Linked DNA regions of Homo sapiens: region 1 is linked to region 2. A link means that fine-mapping ties the variant in region 2 to the expression of a gene that starts in the linked region. Tissue or cell type: nasal epithelium. Region 2 holds a variant in brackets; the other region holds the start of a gene. All regions are shown on one strand. Distances are between the middles of the regions. Region 1 holds the start of TMC1 (transmembrane channel like 1). Region 2 overlaps TMC1 (transmembrane channel like 1).

Region 1 (2,916 bases), 75 kb before region 2:
CCATGTGTTTTATTTAGTCTGTTTGAAATGAAGTTTAGCATATCTATAGCACACAGCATGAAACATGTCAGTCATTTTGAATTTAACATTGTGCATAATGTATTCATAAGAATTATATTTATTTATTAGCATTTATCTTCAAATCAAAGGTTAAAAGTTTCAAGATGCACAAAAATGGTTAACTTTCTGTGAGAAGTCTGAGAAATCACTGAAGACATGAAAATGACAGGCTGGAGGAAGAAGTAAAGAACCTAGAAGGCCAAAATGGAATTCTAAGATAACATGAATATAGAACATAGAAAAGAGAAAGGATTGATTGAAAAAAGGAAAGGGGAAAAAAAAGGAATTATTAAATGGAAACATTAGATTCAAGTAAACCCAAAACAATCATCAAAGTAGATGTTAACAGCATTTTGAGTACATGTTGTGAGTATGAGAAGTGCAATTCTAAATGTTAGGCCCTTATGTTTTAACATATCAGCAAATACAATATTTTGTTTCTAATTTAACAAATTTTTAAGACTTATGTTAGTTGTGACATATTTCCAATAAATAATTATGTTTCCCAAGGACACTGGGTACAATAAAGTGGGTCTGACAATTAACTTACCTTTGAAACCTGAGCCCTTCATTAGTTACAGGAATAGACTGGAACATGATTTTTCCTCTCCTGCTTGGAGAACCCACAAGTTGTGTTTTCTTTATGAATATTGGAAATTCTTTCTTTTAGCCAAATGAAGGGTGTGCATTTCTTCGGCCAGGAGTTACCAGGCTGATAATCCTGATGCAGCGGTTCTCAAAGTCTCCTCAGAAGGCCCGCAGTAGCACCAGCAGCACCAAAGGACTTGTTGGAAACACCAGTTTTCTAGGCCGGGCACAGTGGCTCATGCCTGTAATCCCAGCACTTTCGGAGGCCGAACTCCTGAGGTCAGGAGTTTTGAGACCAGCCTGGCCAACATGGCAAAACCCCGCCTCTACTAAAAATACAAAAATTAGCCGGGTGTAGTGGCGGGCACCTGAAATCACAGTTACTTGGGAGGCTGAGGCAGGAGAATCACTTGAACCTGGGAGGCAGAAGTTGCAGTGAGACAAGATCACACCATTGCACTCCAGCCTGGGCGACAAGAGCAAAACCTCTGATTAGAAAAAAAAAAACAAACAGGCGCCGTGGCTCACGCCTATAACCCCAGCACTTCAGGAGGTTGAGGTGGGCGGATCACCTGAGGTCAGGAGTTCAAGATCAGCCTGGCCAATAGAGTGAAACCCCGCCTCTACAAAAACATGATGGCGCGCGACTGTTTCCCATCTACTCAGAGGCTGAGGCGGGAGAATCGCTTGAACCCGGAAGGCGGAGGTTGCAGTGAGCTGAAATCACGCCATTGCGCTCCAGCCTGGGTGACAGAGCAAGACTCCGTCACAAAAAAAAAAAGAAAAAAGAAACACCAGTTTTCTGATTTCACCGAAGACCTACTGCCTCAGAAACTATGAGGGCAGAACCCAGCAATCTGTGCTTTCTTTCACAAGCCCTCCAGGAGTTGCTGAAATTTAGGAATCATTGCCCCAAAAAGTGGCCCTCATAATGATGCCAGGTAAGGAAAGACAACATTATTACCTATGTGTGGTGTGTTAACATTCTTTATGAAACATGTGTGAAGACCTAAATCGAAGACTTTCTCCATGAGATATTCCCTAATCACATTAGTGAAATAAAACTATATTTCCTCTACTTTTCTACTGCTACAGAAATCTCCCCCAGTTAGGATAGTCCCAGTTTCCTATTTATCTTTGTTTTTCTTGCAGTGCACAGCATGTCACCCAGTAATTGATAAGTTTTTTTTTTTTTGAGACGGAGTCTTGCTCTGTCTCCCAGGCTGGAGTGCAGTGGCGCGATCTCGGCTCCCCAAGTAGCTGGGACTACAGGCGCCCGCCATCACGCCCGGCTAATTTTTTGTATTTTTAGTAGAGACGGGGTTTCGCCGTGTTAGCCAGGATGGTCTCGATTTCCTGACCTCGTGATCCGCCCGCCTCAGCCTCCCAAAGTGCTGGGATTACAGGCGTGAGCCACCGCACCTGGCCTAATTGATATGTTTAAATGTTAAAATTAAATGCAATGATTTCCTAAAATAAACAAATGTGGGACAATTTATTGCACTCTGTTCAAATTCCCATTTTGAAGTGGAATTCAAACAAACATGACAGTAAAGGGGGACAGTGAGCACAGGGACAAGAGAAAAGGAGAAAGGGAAGAAATACAGAGAACTAGATAGGAGGAAGTGTCAAAGACTGATGGGTGTAAGCCACCTTTACCTCTGGATATTGGTTTTCCTTTGAATTGTGGTATGTGGTCATATTGCTTATTAGTTATAACATACAGCTGTCAGAAGAGTTTTTCAATTAAAATTTCAAATGTAATATTAAAACTGTTTGGATTCCTTCCTACTGGGCACTGGACACTGTCTGTGGAGCTGCTGGAACAGCGCTGAATAGGGTCATATTTTAAAGGAACTCAGCCTAGTGCAGTTTCTCAACCTTAGCACTATTGGCCTTTGGGGCCTGATAATCCTTTTTTGTGAGGGGCTGTCCTGTGCACTGTAGGATGTTTAGCAGCATCCTTGGCTTCTACTCAGTAGATGACAGTATCAACCCCCTTCCCCAGAAGTGACAATTAAAAATGTCTCCAGACTTTTCCAAATGTCCCCTGAGGAGCAAAATTGTCTCCAGTTGAAAACCACTGGGTTAGTGGGAGAAACAGATAAGACAGAAGTTCTCCATACACCATGATAATGCCATGATGCCATAGGGCTGGCAGGAGTGAAGGGAAGAGCATCTCACAAAGACTCGGGGGGATGCAGGGAGGAGGAAAAATTAGGAAATGAAGTGGGCTGAGTTGCAGTTAGCCTGTGGGGAAAATGAAGG
Region 2 (2,916 bases):
TATTTTTAGTAGAGACGGGGTTTCTTTATGTTGACCAGGCTAGTCTCGAACTCCTGACCTCAGGTGATCTGCCCACCTCAGCCTCCCAAAATGCTGGAATTACAGGTGTGAGCCAACATGCCTGGCCTCCTCTGCTTCTGATTCAACTGCTGCTACCGATAGACTTACTGAAGGATTTGAAGCCAAATGGTATTAATTTTGGTCAGTTACTTCCCTGTATCTGGTGTCCTCACTAGACAGAACTTCTGTGTATGGCTACTTCATAGACCCCGACCAGCCTACATATTGTTTGCTCTAAGGTCTAGTGCCCTCTCTTATTTCACTAAGATACAGCCACTGTTGGTGGGGGAGTCACATAACATGGAACATAATCACTGTATCAGTTCAGGTGCTCTTGATTCAAGTGGATTTAATTATGAGGGAATTTATTCCTTACATAATTACTAAGTCTAGCATTAGAGTGGCCTGCAGATGAGGGTTGATCCAGTGGCTCAGTGATGGCCAGAACGCTGTTTACTTTTTCCATTCTGCTATCTATGGGGTTGGCTTCATCCTGAGGTTGTTTTCCTTTCTGTCACAGGTTTTACATCAATGGGGTAAACTAGTTTACATTGTGGTAACAAGCAACTCTCAACTTTTTTTTTTTTTTTTTTTTTTAGACTGAATCTTGCTCTGTTGCCCAGGCTGGAGTGCAGTGGTACAGTCTTGGCTCACTGCAACTTCCGCCTCCTGGGCTCAAGTGATTCTCCTGCTTGAGCTTCCTGAGTAGCTGGGATTACAGGCATGCACCACCACGCTGGCTAATTTTCGTATTTTTAGTAGAGATGGGGTTTCTTTTTTTTTTTTTTTTCTTTTTGAGACAGAATCTTGCTCTGTCGCCCAGGCTGGAGTGCAGTGGCGTGATCTCGGCTCACTGCAACCTCTGCCTCCTGGGTTCAAGCGATTCTTCCGCCTCAGCCTCCCAAGTAGCTGGGACTACAGGCGCATGCCACCACGCCCGGCTAATTTTTGTATTTTTAGTAAAGACAGGGTTTCACCATATTGACCAGGCTGGTCTTGAACTCCTGACCTCGTGATTTGCCCGCCTCAGCCTCCCAAAGTGCTGGGATTACAGGCGTGAGCCACCGCGCCCAGCCAACTCTCAACTCTAGTAGCTTAAGACAACAAAGATTTATTTCTTGCTCTTACTGTCTGCCCATCTGTATCACCTTCTCTGCAGGACCCAGTTTAATGGAGCACACACAGAAAAAGGTGCTGGTCACTAGGGCCAAGGGAACAATGGCTCTGGAAGGTTTTTCTTGAACAATTCAGTGTTCCAGTCTTGGAGCAATACATCTTATTTCTACTGTTAAATCCATGGCCAGAACTAATCATGTTGTCCCACTCACCACAAAGCCATATGCAGCCCCACCATGTGCTCAGGAAAGAGGAATGGGAAGCATTTGATGAACAGAAATAATGACTTCAACAATTGGGACTATCAGTTCACAGTTTCAATTGTAAAAAAAAAAAAAAAAAAAAAAGACAGAAATAGAAAAAGAACAATTGAAAGTACTTGCTTTCTCATCCACGAAAAAAGTTGGTCAAAGCCTCTTAGTGTAAGTCTATAGCAGATGATGCCTGATAAGGAATTGTACATACCGTTCTT[C/T]GTGAAAACCAAGAGTACCATGTATGTAACATAGTTGCTTTGGGCTTCTTATAGCAGTTAAGAGTGTATCAGCAGGCCTCCATGGTATTTGAATGTTAAAAGCTTTCATTCCCCCTGGAAGAAAACACATAGCTAACTAAAGAAAGAAAAAAGAAGGGAAAAAGAACAAAGAAAAAGAACCACTAGAGTCTCTGAAAAGAGCTTATGAGATACCTGACTGTCTGCGCCTTCTAAGTATGTACCATGAAACCTTAGATTCCTACCTCATTTTGTGATGGTGTAGAAGGCACATTGGCCACCAGCAACCCTTGTAAATATTTGCGGATTTGAATTTCACAAATTGAAACCCAGACTGCTGAGGGCTTTGCTGCTAACGTCAAAGAGCTGGGGCAACTACCACAAAACCACATGTGGGAGACTTTTTAGATGAGGAGATAGGAAATTCCTAATAAGAAAAGTTTTTTTGTAAAATACTTTCTAATGCTGGCTCTTTAGAGAAGCACATTTTACATGTGCAATGGTGCAAAGTCCTAGCACTAAGATTTCTTCACTCACAGAAAGAAAGAATGATGCAGGTGCTGTTCACATGCGGCCGGAACCATGCCCTTGCCAAGCAGGTCAGCGGGGCACAGGGACTGCGCTCCTCATGATAGTGCAGATTGGCTCGGAAGTACTCAATTCTGTGGAGTCACAGCGCCCTCTGACAGATTTCAGTTTCTGGAAAAGGAAGGGCCCCCTTCAGGGTACCTGCTGTTCACCTTCCATTAGATTAAGGTTGAAGAGCGAGTGGCCATTTGTAGGTACTGGTATGAGATGTTCCTAGCTACCCGCATGTCAGCCCCGGGAAACGGCAACATTTCCCACCCTTCTTACCCTGGGTCCTGAGTAGGAATAAAAGTTAGTGATTCTTAGGGGCATATTGAGAGCTGGCAATGATACCTCTCACAAATCCATCCCCCAGAGATAAGGGGTCCCCCATGCCTTTGATGTATTTGGGAGCTGTGCTGTATGTGTTCTCTTTGGCTCCCCAGTGGAGAATAATAACAATAACAACCGCGTACTAATACAACCCAGATGTCAGCACAGACCCTCTGTTCTCTGTCTTCCCTGAGATATCTGTATCTTCTCAGGGATTACTGTCGGTTCAGGCCTGGCTCCTGCTTTCAGCTTGTGGGAAAACTCACTCCATCTTCATTCCATAACCTCACATCTCCTATGCCAGTTCCCTTCTCTGTGCTCCATGCTGAACCAAATGCCACACTCATCCC

Evidence for each region. PIP is the estimated chance that this variant, and not a neighbour inherited with it, causes the effect.
Region 1: TMC1 starts here. The variant in region 2 is the best candidate, but not a certain one, in a credible set for the expression of TMC1 in nasal epithelium (TOPMed, PIP 0.75).

The regions. Positions count from the first base shown.
Region 1 is chr9:72,520,325-72,523,240 of GRCh38, forward strand. TMC1 (transmembrane channel like 1) reads left to right here and starts at 1,284. Exons shown (of 24, transcript NM_138691.3): 1 at 1,284-1,589.
Region 2 is chr9:72,595,039-72,597,954 of GRCh38, forward strand. All of the region lies in intron 2 of TMC1 (transmembrane channel like 1), which reads left to right. Among named protein-coding and RNA genes, the nearest start is that of TMC1, 75 kb to the left of the region's middle. The variant C/T (reference allele first, on the strand shown) is at 1,649.